Linked DNA regions of Homo sapiens. The protein of the gene in region 4 interacts with the protein of the main gene of each other region in a pairwise test. Each region holds a gene or a part of one and is shown on either strand. Other genes may lie near its edges.

The links.
Region 1: the proteins of GPR161 (region 4) and EFNA5 interact in binary tests that used the Homo sapiens proteins (3 or more experiments, as listed by UniProt).
Region 2: the proteins of GPR161 (region 4) and SLC30A2 interact in binary tests that used the Homo sapiens proteins (3 or more experiments, as listed by UniProt).
Region 3: the proteins of GPR161 (region 4) and COMT interact in binary tests that used the Homo sapiens proteins (3 or more experiments, as listed by UniProt).

What each region holds. Positions count from the first base shown.
Region 1 is NC_000005.10:107,376,357-107,380,937, forward strand, and holds the end of EFNA5 (ephrin-A5 isoform 1 precursor), read right to left. Parts: 3' UTR 538-4,581; downstream 1-537. UniProt on the Homo sapiens protein: Cell surface GPI-bound ligand for Eph receptors, a family of receptor tyrosine kinases which are crucial for migration, repulsion and adhesion during neuronal, vascular and epithelial development.
Region 2 is NC_000001.11:26,043,104-26,050,913, reverse strand, and holds the start of SLC30A2 (proton-coupled zinc antiporter SLC30A2), read left to right. Parts: upstream 1-4,795; 5' UTR 4,796-5,017; coding exon 5,018-5,067; intron 5,068-5,696; coding exon 5,697-5,917; intron 5,918-6,469; coding exon 6,470-6,616; intron 6,617-7,362; coding exon 7,363-7,516; intron 7,517-7,810.
Region 3 is NC_000022.11:19,965,772-19,970,512, forward strand, and holds the end of COMT (catechol O-methyltransferase), read left to right. Parts: exon of another isoform or gene 1-1,204; coding exon of another isoform or gene 1,205-1,438; intron 1,439-2,764; coding exon 2,765-2,965; 3' UTR 2,966-4,204; downstream 4,205-4,741. Other genes in the region: splicing regulator ARVCF, read right to left, coding at 1,205-1,438. UniProt on the Homo sapiens protein: Catalyzes the O-methylation, and thereby the inactivation, of catecholamine neurotransmitters and catechol hormones. Also shortens the biological half-lives of certain neuroactive drugs, like L-DOPA, alpha-methyl DOPA and isoproterenol.
Region 4 is NC_000001.11:168,091,920-168,098,956, forward strand, and holds part of GPR161 (G-protein coupled receptor 161), read right to left. Parts: intron 5,314-7,037; coding exon 4,589-5,313; intron 1-4,588. UniProt on the Homo sapiens protein: Key negative regulator of Shh signaling, which promotes the processing of GLI3 into GLI3R during neural tube development.

The DNA.
Region 1 (4,581 bases), on a different chromosome or scaffold from region 4:
TTACAGATAAGGAAACTGAGTCCCAAAGATATCGTGTGACTTGCCTAAGGTCACACAGTAGTAAGTTAATTCTTCCTTGATTGTGAGAATTGAGGCTTTGGGCAGTACTGAAGAGATTATGATTATCATTACTGTTATTCTTTTCTTCTTCCAGTATATTTGCTGGGAAAATGCTTATTTGGTCTTTTTCTTGATGGGGTGAAAAAACTATGTCTAAAGTAAAAGAATACAATTTGTATTTGGCTCCTGTTGTATTTAACAGTCGTTTTAGGATGCAGGGCTTGTCATAGTGCCTATTTTAAGGCTCAAATACAGAGACTAGGCTGAAATCTCACTATTCTCTCATCAGAATAACTGGAATGCGCCCAGATACTTGGCCATTTCTAACTCTGCATTCTTTGAGCTTCCCAGGCCTTCTCTTGTGCATGTTGTATTATCTTTTCTGTCCACAAAGATTTTGAAAAATCAGCAGAGTACAAGTAGCCCCTGAAATAAAGGCATCATTCAAGGAACAAACAAGTAGAAGGAGGGATCCAATTAAAATGATGAAAATCTTTAATTTTTATTTAGTTATACTTGTACGGACACGTGTATATACAAATACAGATCGTATGGGTTTGTTTGTGTGTGGGTTTTTTTTTTTTACATTTTCTTTTACGTTTATATAATGTCAGCATTTCAAAACAGCACTCGATGAGTAAGTGCAAAGGAACTGCAAAGCAGGGCAGTACAAGCACAGGACCACACGGAGCTGGACTTCACACCCAGACGCACACACAATGAGTGGCTTCAATGGGGTGTCAAGAGTAAGCATGGAGAGCGGATTTTGACTCATGGGTAACCTCCGACATGCCAGCATCTATTAAACTGTACAGACAATGGGAGCAAGCCCATTGTAGGGAGATTTGTCTCACATCCTAGCAGCCCTGGGGCCAATGCATGGGAAAAACTCAGTGATGCCAAACCAGAGACAGACCTGCCCATTCACAGCTCTGAGGGGAAATAAAACGTGGGAGGAAGGCAAGAGACACACAAAAAATAAACATACTAAGTAAAAGGGGGGTGGTGTAGGCAAACGGGGGTGTTGGTGGAGGCGGTTTTCAAAAGAAAAGTCAGTGACCACAACTCTGAGAGCAATGAATGGAAAGGAGGAGTTGAAAACTGTTTTTCTAATTATTTGAAAATAATACAAATGGCTGCTGCCGTTGCTAAGGCACCGGAGAAAAACAGAGTCCCTGAAAATCCACAGGTACTGTGTGACTCTTCCTTTCACAACGACACAGAGAGGGAAACAGCCCCATTTAAGCTTCCTACACTGATTGGTTTGCAACCATTTCCATGAGTGAGCTGCACATGATATTGATAAAGACTCTTCCTGGGAAAAAATAAAACAGTCCATGAAAACAATCACAAACAGAAAACCAAACCAAACCAAAGTACAGAACTGTTTCTAAATTCCCTATCCTTTTCAAACCAACATGCTGGTGGAGAAGGGAGGGTGGGCCACAGGGCTCCAACATCAGACCTTGAAAACACCGAGGACAAAATATCGATCAAAAAAGTCATGTTGTTCCAGGTCCCAAGATGATGGAGTCATAAGATTGGGTGGGCAATGACCACACATGAGTCCTGTATGGAGCAGTGTCTCAGCCACTTGTGACTCTTTTTTTCAGCCATGGTACACATTGGATGTTTCAAAGCCTCAATGCATGTTTTGTATCCTGAAAGTCTATTGTTCTCACTTACAAAAGACATAAGAATCAAATTAATACTTTATTATCAAACACTATGTACAACAGAGGTTGCTAATAATACAGAATTTAAAGAACGCAGTTTTTTTTTTTTTTTTAATGTTTTACTTTTCTTTCCTCTGCCACCCAAGAAAGTACAGTACAAAACAATAGTCTAAACTAACACGAACTGTTACCTGGTCTATTAAAGGATACACGGTATCCACTAAACAGACAGATCCTTATTTCCCTGCTTGATGTTGCAAAGCCCTTGGCAACCAGGGGCAAAGGTCACTGGGGTTTGACTAACTGGGGCTGAGTGGCAGCTATGACTGTCCTTCAGATTTTTGAGTTGTTTTTGAAATTAAAAGCTTCTAAAAGTTGCATCAACATCCTCCTAAGCCCCCAGAGGATTGTAACACCACCACAAAAGGCCACCAACACTTTTTAAACAAAGTGAAAACTGTCTGACACCAATCATCTTGAAAACTCCATGGCAAGTGCATTAGCTATGATTTCATCACTTACAGGTAGAGAAGCTTACTGTCTACTGGTGTGGACACTCTTGCTATTTTCTTTATACTTAATTTGCAGTGGCAGAATGGTGAAGTAAAGGGGTCTAATTTCACTGTGAAAAAATGAAAGACAATGGCAGAGAGGGCCATGAGTAATTATTTCACCATTTGTTAGAGACAAATGCTAGGAAAACCACAGAAGTCACCATTTCTAAAATGCATTTAGCACTGCTAACATAGTTATGACTAACTGGAATCATGACAGGATCATTTGATTTCCTTGTGGTTATAGAACATGCTGTATTATTTTGGTTCTATTGATCCATTTTAGAAGGTATCTTTCTCCCCCTACCCAAATCCCACTGGACCAACAAGCCTGTAACTATTAATTAAAAAAAAAAAAGTATTTCTGCATATGACTGAGAGTACTGCATATATAAATAGCTAAAGGAAAAAGGAATTGAATGCCGTGAACTTTTGTTTTGGTGAAATGGTGGCTGCCTTCTGTGATAAGACTCTGCCACTCCAGAGGAGTTCCTTATGTCAGAGGGGAATAGGATTGATTGTATCTGTGAGGCTGGCAACCCCACACACATGGTTCCATGTGAGAACAGACTCGGCAGTGACATCCACTCCAAATGGATCAGGTAAGCCCAGATTACATTTCAACATGTGTACAACTCTCCAGGGCACAATACGTTTACAGCTGCCTTTCCTTCACATACTTTTCTAATTCAGAACTACTCACAATTCTAAGCAAATTCCCATTCACGAAGTCTGTCCATAATGCGACCTTCTCTTTTTTTAACATATACATCTTAAAAAACAAATATATAAAAAATTCTTATTTTGCTGGAATGCTTTCAATTTTTCACATTTTACATGATCATCACATTTATTTCTTATATTGAAAGGCATGGTTTCTGTTGACATGTCGTGCAAAGCCAAAAAAAAAAAAAAAAAAAGGGCTGGATTGCTTTTCAATTGGTCTAACACTTTTCCTTGTCTAGGCTTTGGATTTTAAAGTTCATGACAGCCCCACCACCAGTAGAAACCCCAAGGCTTGCATTTCCTGGTAATCGACTGGAAACGTCCCCTGTTGGCCATGCTAAGATTCCTTCAACAGGGTCATCCTGCATTTATTCTCCTTCTGCCCCACCCCCACAATGAAACAAGATAGCCCCCATATTTCTAAATGTATCAAGGGATACCACTTTTTCTCACAAGTTTAAATAGGACAAGCATATATACTCACTCTCAGCATAAAGTATATCTAAATAATGTATTTTCTATTCTAGTGGATTTTTAAAAAAATATTTTGTTAAAGTCTTTGGGACTCCATCTTGTTTATCTCCCACAGATAAACACATGTTCCCCCTACGCTTTAGGCTGTGTCAGAAAGGGAAAGAATATAAAATCAACACTTGAATTTTTTTACTCCAAACTTTGGAATTTTATTTCCAAATTTCCCTTTAGCCCTCCCAAGTAGTGCTGACTGACTCTCCTGGTGACAGGGGTTTGTGTCCGAGCCCCTGCGGTCAAGGAGTGTGGAGCAAAACGTGGGTACTAGGGTGGGAGGCGGGGAAAGGCCACAGCACACTGGCGCTCCAGCAAAGCCAAATCATGTCTCCTCTGGCCACTGCGGTCCTCTCCTTGGTACATGTCATCCCCCAGAGGAGTATCCAAAGCTATTCCACTATGCACTCATCAACCCTGGCTTGTCAGCCTTGGGGAAGGTCACTTTATTCATAAAAATGCCTCTTTGAGTTTCTTAAAAAAAAAAAAAAAAAAAAAAAAAAAAAAAAAAAAAGTTGTAGCACCATGGTGATCTGTATTCAAAGAAAAAATATCTGGTGTGCACTGCCCAGTCACCAAAAAAATTAGAGGCACTCACACATACACACCCCCAGCAAACCTGTAGTTTTCTCTGTTTTCACACCTGCTCTGTATTAGCATTCCACACCCAACCTGCCTCCTAGAAAAAAAAAAAAGGCTTCTTTTAGAGAGCACAAGTTTTGCTGTCAAGAATGCTTTAAGACAGTCATATTAAAAAAAAAAACCAGTGTCTCAACCTTTTAGAAGCCTGTTCATTTACATACTCCTATAGGAAATGGTGTAATATCGTATCTATTCTTAATACCTCCCCTCCGGACCTGACATGGTGACATGATGCCCTGCGCGATCATCTTACAGTTCTGAATGAGAAGGCATAAATATTGCATAGGAGAGCAAAACCCTCCCAGCCCTAGCCAGCGCTGGCTGCATCTGCCACTATTCTTCCTTGTCCATAGCCCGCTGACACAGTGCGCTAACGGAGGTGAGTTCTTAGAGGAGAA
Region 2 (7,810 bases), about 140 Mb from region 4:
AGATCATCTGAGGTCAGGAGTTCCAGACCAGCCCGACCAACATGGTGAAGCCCCGTCTCTACTAAAAATACAAAATTAGTTGGGCGTGGTGGCGCATGCCTGCAATCCTAGCTACTTGGGAGGCTGAGGCATGAGAATTGCTTGAACCCAGGAGGCGGAGGTTGTAGTGAGCCAAGATCGCACCACTGCACTCCAGCCTGGGCAACAAGAGTGAAACTCCGTCTCAAAAAAAAAAAAAAAAAAAAAAGAGGCAGATTAATAGGAGAAAAGGCAAACAAATACACAAATTTATTTGACCATGGTTTTATGAGATACAAGAACCTTCAGAATGAACACCCAAAGATACAGGAGAAACTGTCCATTTTTAGGCTTCAGTTCAACAAAGTATGGATGGCCGTGTAGAAATACGGTTGGACAAAAGAGCCTGATCTAATGCTGATAGACTGAGTGGGGAACCCAGCGAGGCCTGTCTGTCAAGATTCTTTTCGGCCTCTCTGCGCAGCATTCCTTCCTTCCTCATATGGCGCAGGACTCTCTCTGGATGGGGGTCTTCTGACCTACAATCAGACAAAGGTCAAATAATTTCCTATGGCCAATTTTACACAGAAAGAAAGAGGAAAGTTAGAGTAATATTTTTAGGTTTTAGGGCAGGCTTTTGGTGAAGAGGGATTGTAGTTTTTATAGCTAGCCTTGGGGGAGAATAAGGGACCAGAGACAGGAGGGCAGGAGAAGGTCAGAGAGAAATGTTTGCTTCCGAGGGAGGCCTTCATTTCGGGGTATTGTTTTCTGAGACCCTATGAGGCACACTCCCAAGGCCAACAGAGGGAAGGAAAATGGAAGCGAGGCAGGCAAGGAGGGAAGCAAGTACAAGGTGTCACGTGGCTGAGCTGGCCACAGCTTCACCAAAGACTGGGCTGGCTGCTTAGTCATGTGAGATGTTTCCAGCAGGCCATAAAGAACAGAACATGATTCAAAGTCCTTCATCTAGAGAAGAAAAAAAAAAAGAAATGTGTCTGCTGGCTCCTTCCTGTCTCCCGCCTCCCATACTGTTCATTCCACCTTGACTTCAGGTGGTGCAGGTGCAGGGGCAGCAAGGTCACCTGCCCCATTGGGTGGTACTTCAGCTGAGTCTGGAGATGGTGGGAGGTGCCAGGGCCTCCATGGTCCAGTTGGGTTGGACAAGGGTGGGGCAGCTGCTGTCTCCACCTCAGTGAACACAATGGGGCCAGGCTGGTGCCCAGACTCACGCCAGGAAAGGCCAAGTCAGCCACCGGCAGTAGGGGATGAATTCATGACTGTGGCCCAGTAGCATCCAGGATCTCCATGAGCAAGAAGCCAAGGGCCTGGAGAGAGGCAAGGCTGAGCGAATCCGAGGCAGCGCATTCACCGGGGCTGATACACCAGAGACTTACAACTTTGAGGAGCATTGCAGAGCCTGTTCCCCCTTTTAGACATTCAGATCACAGTAGCAAATTAAGGGGTCCGAGTCGTCCCACCGTAAAGAAAGCGAATTAACTTTAGATGAGGACCATCAAGTTCATGGTGCTTGGAATGCTGCCTGACCCTAAGTCTTTCATTTTGTGTGTGTGGACTGAATTTCCCAACTTATTCATATGACATCCTCCGGAACTAGAGTTATGTGGAACTTGCTTTAGGACAGTGCTCAAAAACCCTCACAACCTCTGCCCATTTTCACTTCTGGGAGTTTGGTAGGTTTTCTAAGGCTAACTCAGTTCCTAACTTTGAATTTCAAAGAATCAGATTTTGCTCTCATTTCCAGTCCTTTCTCAAGTTCTGAAGCATTTTGTTTTAGTTTTTAAAACACGGTGTAATACACACACACACACCCTTAAAAGTGCACAAAACTCATCGTAGAGTTTAATAACCTATTGTAAAATGAAACCTTATGTTACTACCACTCAGGTGAAAAAAAAAAAAGAACATTGCCAGCCCTCAGAAGCCCTCCATGTGCCCCTCTACCACATCACAGCTCCTCTTTCTGATTGGGGCAGCGGAAAGAGGAGCGGTCAATTTTTTTGTTTTTTTGACAATCACATACTTGTTTTTCTTTATGGTTTGGTCTCCTAAAGTATCCTCCCATAGAAAACTGAAGGGATTTGAGTCCAGAAGGAGAAATTTGAGGCCAGAAAGAGAGAGGTTTTCATCACCTTGAAATCACAAGAATCAGTATTATAACGTGTGTATGTTCTGTTACTTCTCCAGGCTACTGATCATGTAAGCAGCAAGCATTTCAGCCCCGTATCTTGTCACTTATGGAAGAGAAGAGAGAGCAGTTGAGACTTTGGGTAATCAGTTAAAGATTAAATTCCAGGAAGATACCTGTTAATTGCAACTAAGGGGATCTTTCCTTTGCCATAGGAAGGGCTCTTCCTGTACTTGCAAACTAGAACCCTTAAGATGGTATGAAGGGTTCTTGATCAACATGCTTCCTTTAAAATCATGCTGCAAGAGAGGACAGCTGGCTTCAAGGGGGTTCTTTCAATGAATCTTGAATACAGCTCCATGGGCTGCTACATCAGAATTGCCAGGAAAGGTTTATTTTTCCCCAAGTCTTTAATTCTGAAACTTTTTTTTTTTTTTTTTTTAGACAGAGTTTCACTCTTGATTGCCCACGCTGGAGTGCAATGGCATGATCTCGGCTCACTGCAACCTCTACCTCCCGGGTTCAAGTGATTCTCCTGCCTCAGAATTCTGAGTAGCTGGGATTACAGGCGCCTGCCACCATGCCTGGCTAATTTTCTTATTTTTAGTAGAGACGAGGTTTTGCCATGTTGACCAGGCTGGTCTCGAACTCTTGACCTCAGGTGATCCGCCTGCCTCAGCCTCCCAAAGTGCTGGGATTATAGGCGTGAGCCGCCGCACCCAGCCAACATTTTTTAAATACTGAAAAGTAGAGGGAATAGTTATAGTGTACCCCATTTACCCATCACTCAGTTTCAACAGCTGGTGACATATTTATTTCTTCTATACCAGTACCGTACTCTCCCCACTGGGATTATTTTAAGGCAAAACCCAGATGACATTTTATCCCTAAATACTTTAGATAAAGGTGTTCTTTGAAAAAAATCATAACCTCAGGACCAGCCTGGCCAACATGGTGAAACCCTGTCTGTACTAAAAATACAAAAATTAGCTTGGCATGGTCGTGGGCACCTGTAATCCCAGCTACTCAGGAAGCTGAGGCAGGAGAATCACTTGAATCCGGGAAGCAGAGATTGCAGTGAGCTGAGATTGCAGTCGAGCCTGGGCGACAGAGACAGAAATGAAACTCTGTCTCAAAAACAAACAAACAAAAAAACCACTATACATAAAAATGAACAATGATGCCACAATAGCACCAGAGAATTTTATAAATACAGATTCCCAGGCCCTGCCCCAGACCTACTGAATCCTGGAAATATTCAGGCTCCACACCCAGAGATTCTGGTTCGGTTGGTCTGATGCAGGGACCTGTAACCTGCGTTGTAACACCTTCTCCAGGTAATGCTGAGCCTGCTGGTGCTCAGAGTAGACAGACCTGGAGAAAACCAGGGTGTCTGAGGTTTTCCAGAAGAAAACCAGAGTCCAGAGAAGCAGAGAGGCACTCAGTGAGGACCCAAGCAGAGCGGGTGCACCTCACATCCTCACTCCTGGCACCCCGTCTCCTACAAGATGAGAGACTGAAAGAGCCCCTTCCTGTCCCCAGTGGTGTGGGCAAGAGGCCTGCACCTCTGACTCTTGGCTCTGTGAAAGGCCATACCCACCAAGCCTATGGTCCTAGCGACAAAGGGTGCTGGGGAGACGAATTGACCAGACAGGGAGGTCTCCAGCAGCTTCTTTCTACACAGAGGGCACCTGTCAGAGGCCAGCGTGGGGGCCACAGGCTCCCCAATCCCCAAGAACCGCCAGGGAAGGAGGCTGCTTCAAGTGGGTGGGGCACCAAGCTGGCCAGGAAGGACAGGGCTTCTCCCAGCGGTACCAACACGGTGGCACCTCCGGCCTGCATCTCCCAGGCTTGCTTGTCAGGCTTCCTGGGGCTCCCAGGAGCCGCTGCGGGGGAGGGGAGAAGGGGTGGCAGCAGTGGCAGTGGTCGTCTCTGCTCCGATGGTGACTGCCGATGACACTGTTCTCTGTGCGGGTGGAGACAAAGCCGGCCACTCCAGATTCTCCTGCGCGCAGGAGAGGAGGAGCTGGCGCTGCTTCAGTGGCGAGGATGGGTCGATCAGTCCCAGCCGGTCCTAGGGAGAGACACTGCCCCAGCCTGAGGGCGGCGCAGCCCACCCCACCCCAGGACCCTCCTAGCAGGAGGACAGGAACGCAAGCCGACCTCGGGGGGTCTCCGGCCTGAGAGGGGAACATGATCAAGCCCAGGGCAGCCGCCAGTCGGAGGGGGCAGACGCGGCCCCAGTAGCCTCTGGAGACCCTCTTCCGAGGCAAGGAGCCACATTCCTGCCGTCGGGACCACCAAAGCGGATTTCTACAAACTAAAGTCGAGAACTTTTCGGCGGCGAGGCGGCGCACCCCGCGCGGGAGAGGGGGCGCAGGCGTCACCCCGTCCTCACTCAGCAACACCCGGCGCCGCGCCGGGCGAAGGCTGGCAAACTTCTCGCGGCCGGCAGGTGGGCTCCGCGGGCCCCATGGGCGCAGGCACAGGTGTGCGGGGCCACAGCCGGGCCTTTTGCAGCCGGCGACCGCCCCCCCTTCCCCGCGGGCTTTTGCACACGACGCGCCGACGGCAGCTTCACACGGGTTGGCGAGGGCCGGATAAAGCCGGCGGCCGCGGGGCGCAGCGGCTGACCCGAGACACGGGAGCGCTTGGCACGCGGAGCCAGAGCCGGAGCTGCAGCCGCAGCGGGAGCCGGGGGAGCTCAGGGGCCGCAGGAGCCGGGCCGGAGTGAGCGCACCTCGCGGGGCCCTCGGGGCAGGTGGGTGAGCGCCACCCGGAGTCCCGCGCGCAACTTTCAGGGCGCACTCGGCGGGGCGGCTGCGCGGCTGCCGGGACTCGGCGCGGGACTGCATGGAGGCCAAGGAGAAGCAGCATCTGTTGGACGCCAGGCCGGCAATCCGGTAAGGCGAGAGCCTGGGGACGGGCGGGAATTTTGGCGGCAGCCGACGCACCTCCGCATTTGCCATCCTAGCAGTGGTTGGTTTTGGCTGCGGCTTGAGCTGGGACCATGCAGGAGGGGTGGGGTGAGGTGAGGGAACGAAGATAATGGGCTGTGGCCCAAGGACCGTCTCTCCCTTGGGGCGCAGCCCAGATTCTGACCCCTGCCCGCGGGGGGCCTGGGGCCGGGGGATTGGCGGTTCCCATGCCTGGAGTCCCGCCCCGCCCAGCACTTTGCCCCAGGCAGCCCCGCCCCGGGGAGGCCCTGTGTCCCAAGTGCGCTGGAGGGGGCCTGCTGTTCTCCCAGAGCCTGCGCTCTGTTCCTTCCCCGCGCTCCACTGGACAGCACGCCCCTTGGCCGGTTCCCAGGGTCTTCACCTCCTCTGGCCTCTGAAGGGCCCCGGGCCCCAGGACTCCCATTCCCCTATCATCCCCGTCTGAATACAGGCTTCTCACCTCTGGTTTGTCGAGCTCGGAGCGTCCTTAGCTATTTTTCCCAGTGGACACAAGGCCTCACAGAGAAATGGGACTAGAGTCGGCCCTCCTTACCTCATCTCAGAGCTGAGCGTTCCCTCTCTTCCCCTCTGGCCAGGTCATACACGGGATCTCTGTGGCAGGAAGGGGCTGGCTGGATTCCTCTGCCCCGACCTGGCCTGGACTTGCAGGCCATTGAGCTGGCTGCCCAGAGCAACCATCACTGCCATGCTCAGAAGGGTCCTGACAGTCACTGTGACCCCAAGAAGGGGAAGGCCCAGCGCCAGCTGTATGTAGCCTCTGCCATCTGCCTGTTGTTCATGATCGGAGAAGTCGTTGGTAAGCACTTTTGGGCTAATTAAATGAAGTTGGTGCATGGATAGACTGGATGTTCCCAGCAATACTGACACTAAAAGCCCCAATTACTGAACACACACTACAGTAAGCCTTTATATACACATTATCTGATGCAGGTCTAACAACAACCTGTGTTCTCACATGGGTGACGTTATTCTCCTTACTTTACAGATGATGAAACTGAGGCATGTTCAGGTGAAGTAACTTGCCAAAGATCACGCACAACTCGTAGCTAAGGGAAGGCCTGAATTCCTAGAAGGGAAGAGCATTTACTGAGTATCTGCTATGTTTTCCAGTCCCTATTTGAACTTGATGTGCACATTCACCCTCTAAGTAGATATTGGTGGCCCATTTCACAGAGAGTGGAAGTTGAGGCTCAGAGAGAGTAGGTCACTTGTCACGGTGGTACAGCTCATGGGTAGAGAGATCTTGAGCCCAGAATGTCCTCTTCCAGAGCCTGTGGTCTCCCTGCTGCACACACAGTCTTGGGAGCCAGCTCTCTGGGGGAGCTGATAAGGACCCTCCACCCTGCAGGTGGGTACCTGGCACACAGCTTGGCTGTCATGACTGACGCAGCACACCTGCTCACTGACTTTGCCAGCATGCTCATCAGCCTCTTCTCCCTCTGGATGTCCTCCCGGCCAGCCACCAAGACCATGAACTTTGGCTGGCAGAGAGCTGGTGAGGATCGCGGTTTGGCTGGAGATGGGGTTGAGAGAGAGGGTGGGTTAGAACAGGGGTTCTTAGGTGGCTGTAATGGGTGGATCCCCCCTTCCTCCCCTGAGTGAGGCCAGGAGGGTGATCTGGATGGGGGAAGAGGATGTCAACCATGGCCTCTGTCCTCTGGGAAATCCTAGTCTGATGGGGGAGCCCTGGTCCCAGTCATCCAGGAGCTCTCAGTCTGCAGGGAAGCAAAGTTGACCTTCCTAAGAAGTGCAGTAGCCAAGCTTCAAGAACAAATGACAATGGCATTAACACTGCACATAACTCTGTGGATCAGCTCTGGGGGGAGGGGAAGGCCAGCAAAGGCTGCTGGAAGATATAGGCTTTAACCTCTCTTCCGTTCACCCTGGACTGCATCGTCACCTTCCTCTTTGTGGGAGATGGCCCAGCCTGTCTTCCCCAGAAGCCTCAGTTTACTAGCTGAACAAAAGGCACATACTTTAATAAGTCAGCTTCTTTACATGTACAACCAAAAAGGTGGACTCAGATGATGACTTATTAGTTCCTTCTAGCTCTTACATTCCTAGATATATGAGGGGTGGGGTAAGGGGCAGCCATACCGGCCATACCTTCAGCAGAGCCCAGTGGGACCCAGGCCCTGACTTTGTGTGGGAGGTGGGTGGGGAGGATCCTGAAGGAAGGGGGAAGACTCCTTAGCTCCAGGCCCATGCCAAGGTGGGTGTTGGGGTTGGGTTCTTCCTCAGAGATCTTGGGAGCCCTGGTCTCTGTACTGTCCATCTGGGTCGTGACGGGGGTACTGGTGTACCTGGCTGTGGAGCGGCTGATCTCTGGGGACTATGAAATTGACGGGGGGACCATGCTGATCACGTCGGGCTGCGCTGTGGCTGTGAACATCATGTGAGTGGGGCCCCAGTTTCCCTCGTCTCCCCTCCTCCTCCCGCCTCTCACACCCACACCTATGTCTGCTTTGCGGAAAGAGACTGTGCCACTTTCCAGCATACGCTACAGGGACAGAACTTCCCTAATGGTCTGAGCTCTGGCACCTGGAACACCTGGGTCCTACCTTAGGCCTAGGCCAAGAACACTGGGAGCTGTAAATCGGAGTCTTCATCCACTCTACCCACTCCCTGATACATGTCAGGGACTAGCCTTGGTGGCTTCATACCTGAAGTGGGGCGGGAAGAGGCCAGT
Region 3 (4,741 bases), on a different chromosome or scaffold from region 4:
CCTGGCCGTGGAGAGGGAGGACCTGTAGTGGCCAAGGGGGTGGGCATTGGGAGGGTGGGAGGGAGACCTACAGGCCAAGACAGGGTAGCTGGAGGGGGGCTCACCCCTGACAAAGGAGCATGATGCTGGCAATTGGGTATTGATGGCAGAGAGCTGGCACTCAGCCAGATGGGCTTCACTTGGGCAGGAAAGACACCCACAGCTGGGCCTGCGTTACTGCGGCCGAGTTTCAGCAGCTGTGATGTGGGTGCTAATTACAGGGGCCTGCCTTCATAGAAAAGTAGCAAACATTGCAGTTTAGTAACTAGGAAACTAATAGTTTTCTCAGTGCTGCTTGCGCAAAGCTGGTAATTATCTCAAAAGAAGCAAAGTCATGAAGTGGGAAGTCATGAATTGGGAATGGGTGTCCTTGTTAAACGCACATCTGCACACTCAGGGCTGGGGCCCTGTGCCCCCTTGTGGAGGGTTAGGGGACAACCTGGCTCTTGTGAGGGTCTAGCCATCCCCTCAGTGGGTTCTGTGAGCATCGGAGGCACGAGGGGTGAGGGGCTCAGGAGCAGGTTGCAATTCAAAATCAAGGGCTGCTTTGAGGAGGCCTCTCCACCGGGCTGCTGTAGTCACCAAGTCCAGCCCATGCCCAAAGGAAGAGGAATGAGTTCCCCCTTAAAAAAAAAAAAAAAAAAAGAAAAAGACAGAGTCTTGCTCTGTGCCCAGGCTGGAGTGCAGTGATGACATCATAGCTCACTGTAGCCTCAAACTCCTGAGCTCCAGTGATCCTCCCACCTCAGCCTCCTGAGTAGCTAGGACTAAAGGCATGCACCACTACACCTGGCTAATTTAAAAATTTTTTGTAGAAATGGGGTCTCCCTATGTTGCCCAGACTGGTCTCAAACTCCTGGCCTCAAGCGATCCTCTTGCCTCAACCTCCCAAAGTGCTGGGAGTACAGGTGTGTGCTTGGTCTGAGGCTCCAACTTTTTGTTGTTGTTTCTCGAGACAGTCTCTCGCTCTGTCGCCCAGGCTGGAGTGCAGTGGCGCGATCTTGGCTCCCTGCAACCTCTGTGAGGCTCCAACTCTTGAAGGGAGGAGAGTCTAAGGAGGGTGGGCCAGATGAAAACCACCTCAGCATAGTGTCACCTGCTCCTCTGACACTGTCGCTTCTCCACGGCATTAGATTTTCAGTCCTGCTCAGACGCTGATGCATGTTTAGCCAGTTCTCCAGGTGGTCTGAGTAGCTGGTAGGAGGCTTGCAGTGTCGGGCGACAGGCAGGACAGGTGCTGCCTTCTTTCCCCTCTTGACCAGTTTCGTAAAGGAGTGGGCCCCTGGCAGCCTCCAAAGGTGACCCATGCTCCTTTCTGCCCTTCCCTCCTTCTTTCCTGTTTAACTCGTGCAGGTGCAGTGGTCTGGTGTCTTTCAGTCCGCTGACGTCTTCTGTATCCCTGATGACCAGATTGGGCTCCTGAGTCCCCTGGCGCAACCCGAGAAGTCCAGGAGCCCAGGCCCCTCACTCATGCATTCCCTGGCCCAGACTGGAAGGCAGCCGCCCTGCTCAAGGCCTAGGCCATTGTCCTCCTCCCGGGTGGCGCTTTGTTCTACGTCTTTTCAGCTGACATTGCTAGGACATTTTTTTTTTTTTCTAAATGAAAACACATCATGATTCATGGTGGTACTTCCTGCTCAACTCCGGACCTTGGGGCTGTCCCCTGACCTCACTGACCTTGCAGCCGTGTGGTGTCCATACTGTCACATGAAAGCCCCCTGCTTTCTCTGCAGCATACAGGCTGGAAACGACCGCCACCCACCACCAGGACAGCTGCAAGCCCTGTGGGACTCTCCAGGCCCATCCCAGAGGCATGTGGGGTCGGATACCAGTGTTTCAAGGCACCTGCCTGCAAATTGATTTTATTATACTTTAGATGTTTGAGATTGCTTGTTAACTTTTGTTTGGTGACTAAGTCAAATTTCCAAGACAAGGTGACTGGGGTGTCCCTTGCCCTGGTAGGTCCTTCCTCCCCATAGGCAAACACTTCCTCTCAAGGTTTCTTGTTTATGTGATGTAAGCAAACCCTTTTCTGATAGCATAGATAGGCAAGCATCCTATGAGGTTTCTCCCGATAGTGGACCCCACGGGCCATGCCCTATGGCTGCGTGTCCAGTAACAACTCCTTCCTTCTGCACAGAACCCAGGCAGAGGAACTCTGTGTCCTCCCAGGGCCCAGGCACTGGTGAAGATGGGGGGTCTGCAAATGCAGGAGCTTGGGGATGTCCAGAACTGACCCCAAGGGGCAGGCTTGTTGATGGGAGGTCTGCCCCACCTCAGCCCTGCAGGGTCACCCTGGTCAGGCCAATATTGTCTCCAGGGACCATACCAGCAACCCCTCTCCTTGGGTGCCTCTCCCTCATAGGCCTGAGTTCCTGGCACTGGGTGTTGAGGGCCCCATTGTTTCCACTCACCCAGCTAGCATTTATTGAGCACCTACTGTGTGCCACATGCTGTTCTAAGGGATGGATACTCCTGAGATGGATACAGGAGTTGATGAGAGAAAGGTCCCTGTCCTCACGGGGCCCATGTTCTGAAGGTGGCACCCAAGTCTTGTACAGTCCTTTCCTGCAGGAGTCACGCTGGGCAGAAAGTGGAAACCTGGCCCCAGGGGCTAGGCACAGGCGTGGTGCCGTGGCCTAGTGAGGAGCACCCATCCTGGTTTGGGGCAGGTTCTCTGGGCACCTCTGACCCTCACCTCCCCCACCCCCCGGTCTGTTTGCAGGAATGTGGCCTGCTGCGGAAGGGGACAGTGCTACTGGCTGACAACGTGATCTGCCCAGGTGCGCCAGACTTCCTAGCACACGTGCGCGGGAGCAGCTGCTTTGAGTGCACACACTACCAATCGTTCCTGGAATACAGGGAGGTGGTGGACGGCCTGGAGAAGGCCATCTACAAGGGCCCAGGCAGCGAAGCAGGGCCCTGACTGCCCCCCCGGCCCCCCTCTCGGGCTCTCTCACCCAGCCTGGTACTGAAGGTGCCAGACGTGCTCCTGCTGACCTTCTGCGGCTCCGGGCTGTGTCCTAAATGCAAAGCACACCTCGGCCGAGGCCTGCGCCCTGACATGCTAACCTCTCTGAACTGCAACACTGGATTGTTCTTTTTTAAGACTCAATCATGACTTCTTTACTAACACTGGCTAGCTATATTATCTTATATACTAATATCATGTTTTAAAAATATAAAATAGAAATTAAGAATCTAAATATTTAGATATAACTCGACTTAGTACATCCTTCTCAACTGCCATTCCCCTGCTGCCCTTGACTTGGGCACCAAACATTCAAAGCTCCCCTTGACGGACGCTAACGCTAAGGGCGGGGCCCCTAGCTGGCTGGGTTCTGGGTGGCACGCCTGGCCCACTGGCCTCCCAGCCACAGTGGTGCAGAGGTCAGCCCTCCTGCAGCTAGGCCAGGGGCACCTGTTAGCCCCATGGGGACGACTGCCGGCCTGGGAAACGAAGAGGAGTCAGCCAGCATTCACACCTTTCTGACCAAGCAGGCGCTGGGGACAGGTGGACCCCGCAGCAGCACCAGCCCCTCTGGGCCCCATGTGGCACAGAGTGGAAGCATCTCCTTCCCTACTCCCCACTGGGCCTTGCTTACAGAAGAGGCAATGGCTCAGACCAGCTCCCGCATCCCTGTAGTTGCCTCCCTGGCCCATGAGTGAGGATGCAGTGCTGGTTTCTGCCCACCTACACCTAGAGCTGTCCCCATCTCCTCCAAGGGGTCAGACTGCTAGCCACCTCAGAGGCTCCAAGGGCCCAGTTCCCAGGCCCAGGACAGGAATCAACCCTGTGCTAGCTGAGTTCACCTGCACCGAGACCAGCCCCTAGCCAAGATTCTACTCCTGGGCTCAAGGCCTGGCTAGCCCCCAGCCAGCCCACTCCTATGGATAGACAGACCAGTGAGCCCAAGTGGACAAGTTTGGGGCCACCCAGGGACCAGAAACAGAGCCTCTGCAGGACACAGCAGATGGGCACCTGGGACCACCTCCACCCAGGGCCCTGCCCCAGACGCGCAGAGGCCCGACACAAGGGAGAAGCCAGCCACTTGTGCCAGACCTGAGTGGCAGAAAGCAAAAAGTTCCTTTGCTGCTTTAATTTTTAAATTTTCTTACAAAAATTTAGGTGTTTACCAATAGTCTTATTTTGGCTTATTTTTAATGCTTTTTCTCAGTGTTTTTCTTCTGTTTCTGAGTCACGAACAGCAGGCACTGAAAGCAGTCCCCCAGCCACTGCCGAAGGTCAGTCCCGGAGGTGCTGCCCAGGCTCCAGGCAGATGCGGCAGCCCCGGCCCCAGCCAGCATGGGCTGGAGAAAGGCTCTCTACTGCACAGGGGCCTCACGTGACTGCAGGGCTCTGGGGAGGTGGGGCACCTGTAGCCTGACCCCCACCTTGCTGCTTCCAAAGCTTCCTTGCCCAGGGCTGGGCCTTGTGGGGCACCCCCCACACCGTGGTCTGCCTGCCTGCAGGGTGCCCAGGGAGACCCTCCGCCTTTAGAAGTCCAAGTTCTTTCCCAGCCCCCTCCCTGCCTAGCTGCCTGCCCCTGGCGCCAGACCTGGCCCGCACCACTGGGGCACTGTGTTCCCAGGGGCACCCTCCTATCCCACCAGCCCCAAAGCCCAGCCAGGCACCCTTCCCTGCCACCTCCCTGGGCCCTGCCCCAGCAGCCCAGTCGGCCTCCTCGGGCCTTCTGTCACT
Region 4 (7,037 bases):
TTATGATACACTCACAGATAGGAGGAGACCTGTTCCTTCATTCTACCCTAATTCTTCAGAGGTTACAAGGCAATAGAATGCACTTTCTCCTTTCTTCCCTGGAGCCAAGGAGGACATGGTGTGGGAAGGCGGGGTGGTCACAGCAGGCTTCTCTCAGAACTTCCCTCTCGCTGCTTTTGGGAATCCTGCTTTTGCAAGGGGACTTCCTCTTGACTGGGGGTTACTGTAGGGAGCTGGGACCAGAAAGGCCCCAATCCTTTCCCCTGCACATGCCCATCCTCCCAAGGTCTCGGCCTGAGAACATGACTGTGTTCAGCAGGAGGCCTGGCTTAGGGAGCAGAGCCTGTGGGGGCATCTCCTGCCAGCTGGGATGGCTGAAGCCGCAGTGGGTTTTGGACACCATCTCTGAGGCTGCAGTGAAAGCCAGGAACATGTCGGTCTGCACCAGTGGGAGGAATGGTCTGAGCCAGGCCAATGCGGCTCAGCTAAAAGGTCTGGAAACGGGGCAGCCAGGTGGCATCCCTCTCCTCTGTGTTTATGCAGCATTTACCAGCAGAGGGTGGAGACAATTACCCTGAGATTGTTCACATGAAACAATGTATTTACTGGGCTGAGCACAATCCAACCCCTCAAGAAAAAAGCACAAAGGCACAGGCTCGGGGAATCAGGTTTGTGGCTCTCCAGAGGCATGCGGTGAGCAACAGTCACAGTGCTCTGAGAAGCTGAAAGAACAGGGGTGTGATTCTGAGATAAATTTGCAGGTACTTTGAGCTAACTACAAGACCTCTAGATGCCCCCAAGCAAAGGAACTTAGGAAGGCAAGGGAGTAAATCCAAAGGCTCTGGGGTCACCCTCCCCGCCCTCAAGCTAGGCCTTCTCAAGGAAGAACCTGGAGCGAGGTGTTTTCCCCTGGACAAACGTGAGTCAGTGTCCTTCGCAGGAGATAACGGGAAAGGCTCTATGCCCAGGAGCTTCAAGGGTCTCGTAAGGGCGGCGTTTGGAGGGGGTGCCCCCTGATACTGCCTGGGCCACCCTCCCTGGCTGGGGAGAGGGGTGGTGCTCGGGCTCTCCAGCCCTGGCTGGAGTGAAGGTTCTGGGTCGGCCAGCGGAAGGGCAGGTGGAGGGGCTGCCTGCACTTTCTCCTGAAGCCTCTTCTTGGCTCCCATTGCCAGTAGCCACCAGTCAGCTTTGTATTGGTGCTTTACCATCCTAAGACCACCTGGTAGCATTTAGCAATGTCCATGCAGGGCTGACCTATCTGCCACATGGTGGTGCTGCGTGGCAACCTCCAGGAAGTCCAGAGATCTAAATTCCTAAGTGACCTTCCCCGTGGGAATTGGCTAAGGAGACCTTACAAGCAGAAGGTATTTGGTGGCCCAGCGACATTTGGCACCCATGGAAAGCCTAAGATTTTGTACTTCCTCACTTTGGGACAAACAGAATGAGAGAAGCAGAACCACTGATTATGGCTGAAATCTGCTAGATATAAAGGACACACTGTCAACTGCCCAGGAGACTCCTGACATCCAAGTCAGCTGGGAAGCTCCAGAAATGTGTGGGATTCTGCTTCTGCCTTTGCTCATATGCACTGCTTTTAGGAAAGCTTATTCCATTTACTTTGGTTAAACCTTTCCAAGTGCCCATACAAATTGAGAGGAACAGAATCAAGAAAGAGCCTCCAAGTTGCTTCTTGCTGGCTCTGAGACAGATCAGATCATCCTTCATACCTCTAGTTAACACTAAGGTGAGCCAGTGGCAGGGGAAGTGATTAGGGTTTCAGAATCTGCTGCAGATCAAGGCCTTGCCCACAGAGGGTCTGGTCAGCCCTGGCTCAGACAGAGGGACCAGGGACACAAGGCAGAGGCCAGGGCTCTCTCCTGCAGTCAGAAAGCCATGGACAGCGCAGGGTGAGCGGCTGGGCTGGGGCGCCACATTCTGCTTTGGTTCCCAGACTCTTACTGATGCTGCTGCCTCCTCCTGGGATCAGGACCTTCAGGGAAGAACAAGAAGAACCATCCCCCACCCCCACCCCAGCTCCCATTCCTCGGAAAGACCAATAACTTGGAACCCATTCCATAAGCTCTTCAGCCCAAAGGCATCCCACAAGCCTGCTTTCCCTAAATGAAGATGAGACCACCAGCTGCCTGGGATGTGCCAAACCAACCACAGCTGGTGTTTTCCGCCTGTGCTCACAGCTTCACCAGCTCTTCTAGGACACCTGCAAGTGACTTGCATGGAAAATCTTGGCCTCAAAAGCAGGTGTTTCTTTTTGTTCTACGAACCCTTTCCTGCTCCATTTTCTGTCCTCATTTTTTTTCCTTCTTCATTTTAACTTCATTGATCTAGAAAACATCTATTTTTTTTTGCCTAGAAGACAAGTGAGTTTACAAAATCTGGACTAATACATTAATCAGTGAAATGAAGCCCAACATTGAATGGACTCCTGGATCACAGGTCATATGTGAAAATGTGGGCTTGCAACTGGCAGGGGTGAGCATTTCAGTGGTTAAAATACTGAGATACAGAGAAATGTTTTCTCCTATGGTTAAAAGTCCCAGACTTCCTTCCTCTCTTGGAAATAAAACTCCATCAGCCCGTGAAATAAATCAGTGATGCCATTGTGTCTCATCGCCACATGGAAAGGATCTCCTGTCATCATTGCCACTGGGTGTGCATAATTAGAGTCATTTCTTTCACCCTCTTGAGAAGAAAAGTGGAAGAAAGACCTATTTCATGAAGATGAGAAATTAACTAGAGTGGTTTGAAGAGTTGCCCGAAGTCATCTGGCAAGAGATTAGGACTGTAGTCCAAGCTGAATGTTCTCCAAATCTCTCCCAGTGGCTTGGCCAGGTGATGGTCTCCTTTCACCTTGGCCCTAAAAATCCAGCTACTTGACCTCAAAACTACACAGTAAAAATGCTAGAGGCAAGATCCACAAATGTGTCCTGAGTCAGTGGGAAAGGGCCAAAGAGGAAACAGGGTATTTGCATCATCTCAAAGTATCTCCTCAGTTGTATTTATTAATTACAATGGGAAAATCAGCAGCTTTACTGTGGAGAAAGCTGACAGGCACCACCTTAACCGAGAGATCAAGAGCAACACAACTAGCAATAAGGCATATTGGCATATGTGCCCCCTGCTATGATGTACAGGAAGGGCACATCGCCCCTGTGGCATTTTTGCCAAAAATGGATAACCTCATTCTAATCTTGAGAAAGCATCAGATGAACACAAATTAAGGGGCAGTCTACAAAATACCTGGTAAGTACTCTACAAAGCTGTCAATGTCATAAAAGACAAGGGAAGAGTAAAGGATTGTCAAAGATTGACTAAGACAATATGGGATCCTGAGCTGGATCTTTGGACAAACAAAGGACATTAATGAAAAACGGGTGAGATCTGAATCAAGTTGTAGTTAATGGCACTGCCCCAGTGTTAACGTTTTAGAGCTGTGGTTGTTCAAGACAGTAACCCTAGAGGAAGCTGGGTGTGTGGGAATTCTCTGTATTGTTTTTCCAAGTCTTCTGTAAATCTAAAATTATTTCAAAATAAAAAGTTTTAACAAAAAATCTAACCCCTAACTAGAGTAATTCCACTGGGTCCCATCAAAGGTGGTGGGATTGTGTCCGGAAACCTGTGCACACCGGATCAGTCATCAGAGGAAGGAGCAGCCTCACACGTACAAGGCCATGATGCTTCGATGGAAGGCTGAGGTTTGGCATGGACACCCCCGGATTGTCTGGGACCATCTGAGGAGATCACTGATCTGTGAGGAGGAGGAGGATGGTTGAGGAGGAAGACAGCAGCTGAGGTGGGGAGGGGGTGCTGACAAGAGGAAACACTGAAGGAAAGGATGTGGATGTGGCTGTGCCAGGAGAAGGTGGCCTGGTCCAATGCTTGGATTCTTTTTCCTCTAGTAAAGAATATACTCCAGGCCTGGCATGGTGGCTCACGCTTGTAATCCCAGCACTTTGGGTGGCTGAGGTGGGCGGATCACTTGAGGTCAGGAGTTTGAGACCAGCCTAGCCAATATGGTGAAACCCGTCTCTACTAAAAATATAAAAAGTAGTTGGGTGTGGTGGTGCGTGCCTATAATCCCAGCTACTTGGGAGGCTGAGGCACGAGGATCACTTGAATCAGGGAGGCAGAGGCTGCAGTGAATGGAGATTGTGCCACTGCACTCCAAGCTGGACAACAGAGCAAGACCCTGTCTCAAAAAAAAAAAAAAAAAAAAAAAAAAAGAGAGAGAGAACTAACTATACACACTCTGAGGCCAGAGGGCCAGGGCTGGGGTTTCAGAAAGCAGATTTCTGGACCGTGGTGTCCCCTGTCCCATTCTTTTGGGACACATACCAGGGCACCAGGGAGCTCTGCTGGCCTTGTCAGCATGGCCGTGAGCTACTGAGTGACAGGAAGCTCCCTGGCAATCACAGCGGAGCCTCTGGAATGTTTCTTCCGAAAGGAAATCTGTGCTTTGAGCCTTACCGCCAGTCAGCCTGAGAACTCACCCACAAACAGGCCAGAGTGGCTGAGAGGACCACAGATTTCATCTGCCTCGGAGGGGCTATCCTAACAATGCCCAAGTTACCTGTGATCCTGTTGGAAATGCTGAAGAGCCTGGAAGTCCTCTGTCGTTGCACAAATGGTTCCCGATAATACCGGTCCCCAAAGCACATGCCCAGTAGTTCTTTGCGAACTGTCTTGTTCCAGAGTCCATAGATCAGGGGGTGGCAGACAGCGCTGGCAAAGGACAGCCATGTGGCCCAAGTCTCCAGGCTCGGGGAGACGGAGCTTTTCCCCCAGAGGGCCTCAGAGGCGATGACAACCATGTAGGGGCCCCAGGTGACCATGAAGGCACCGAGGACCACCAGGATGGTGATGAGGGCTTTGCACTGGTTGGCCGAGTAGACCACACCCTGAAAGGCATTCCTCCTGCTGCCTGAAGAGGAGGTGGAGGTGCTGGAGTTCTTCCTCCCGGTCCTCTGAGCATCCTCCTCCACGATGACGACTGTGCCACAGTGCACCTTGCGTGCCTTGACCCTGGCCACGCGGAAGATGAAGCCATAGCACACCAGCATGACCAGAAAGGGGAAGAGGGCACACCAGATCTGCCAGAAGGCCGTGTAGCCAGGCTCCCGGTGCCAAGCAGCCACACACATCCATTTGAACTCGTCAAACTCCACGGATGACCAACCAAACAGGGGTGGCAGGCAGCCGATGAGCGAGTGAAGCCAGATGTAGACAAGTGCCATCACAGCCCGGTTCCCTGTGATCTTCATGGGGTACACCATGGGGTACAGGACAGCATAGTAGCTAGAAAAGGGATGGAGGGAGGCAAGAGAGAGAAGTCAGCGGAGAGAGAAAACCGCTGCCTTCCTGCGTCAGGGGCTCCCATGACTGGGTTGGATGTTTCTAAAAGCAGCACCTTCTCCCAAGTCTCCCCAGACAAGTTATATAGACTGCATCGTGTTCCACAGCTCTGCAGAGCTCTTTAACAGAGAAGAGCTCAACACTGGCAAGACACAGAGCTCGAACAGTCCTGTTTCCAAGTCATCACACCACAGCCCACTCATATTTGGGGGTGTGGCCAGTCTTAAGATACCTACAGAGGTCCTGAGGGATTATGCATTGGGCCAGATCAATTCTGCTGCTGCTGACAGCAGAATCATCCATTTACATCAATTTTCAGAGGGATCATTAAGAACCAGAATGATGTTGAAGGACTACGGGCTTCATTCAACCAATGGACATTTACCAAAGGCTTGCGATGTGCCAAGCACCGCGCTACCTCCTGGAAATGCAGTTGAGAAGATGTGAGGGAGGCAGACACCTGAGCCAAGTATCAGGGCCTGGAGTGGTAAGGGCCACATTGAGTCCTCACAGCAACTGTGAGCAGCGGATATGTCATTATCTTCATTTTACAGATGAGGAAACTAAAGCAGGGAAAGGCTAAATAACACACCCCAGACCCATGGGAGAAAGACAGAAAGCCAGGCGATCTGACTCTACAATCCCCAGTGCACACGCCCAGCAATTCTGTGTAAGCCTTCTTGTTCCACAGCCAAGGGGGCGGGTCCGAATCACTCAGTGCTGCTAGGTAGGAGGTGGGCCAGGAGGGCTATCCATTCAAACTGGCAGGCTTCTGGTCCAGCACAGAGGGTCACAGCAGGCTCCTGTTGGAGGTGATGCTCCAGACCCAGGTCTCACAGCGTTGGAGGCACTGACCCAGGACCACCCCAGGCAGAAAGCTAGCCTGGCGAGGTATGGAGTTGTGAGTGAGCACCAGCTCAGCAGGGAGGCTGCATGGAGCTCCACCTGGCAGGAGAGAGAGTGCAGGATGGAGAGAGGAGGAGAGAAGGAAGCAGGCCGGGTGGACGGGGCCGGGGCATGCAGAGCTAAGGACTGTAGGCCCAGCTAAGGACTGGCCCTTTAACTGGAAAGGGTGGGAGGACTCAGACCACAGGGCTGAAAGTCAACCACCACCCTCCCAACCCCGACATTTTATCCAAGGGAAATAGGATGTTCCCATGAGGGCAACATGTGTAAGGGACGGGTGGCCACACTGATGCCGCCTGGCAGGACGTTGGGAAATGACTCTGGCTATGTGCCTCACACATCGCCTGGGAAGGTGGCTCCTCCACAGGGACCGCCCTGAGTCACCCTTGGGCCCCAGCAGCTGAACTGCCACATGCTAACTGGAGGTGCTGCCTCCTTGGTCTTCCTAAGCAGGGGTGAGCCTGGGGCTGCTCTGAGCTGAGCCTTGAGCCCAGGCCAGGATCTATCCTGGAAAGAGAGCATTTCCGGCTATGCGGCCTGAGGAGAAGATTGCGCAGTGATTAGGGTGTCTATTACAGAATCACTGCACAGTGGCTGGGTAAGGTGATTACTGTCTTTCGCTGCTATCTGGGCTTGCATCTTGCAAAGGCCGTGCAGCCCAAGGGAAAAAGCATGCCTTTGGAGCTGGAAATTCAAGTTCAGATGGAGGCTCTGATGTCTATTAGCTATGTGACCTCAGCTAATTGATGTAACCTCTCAGA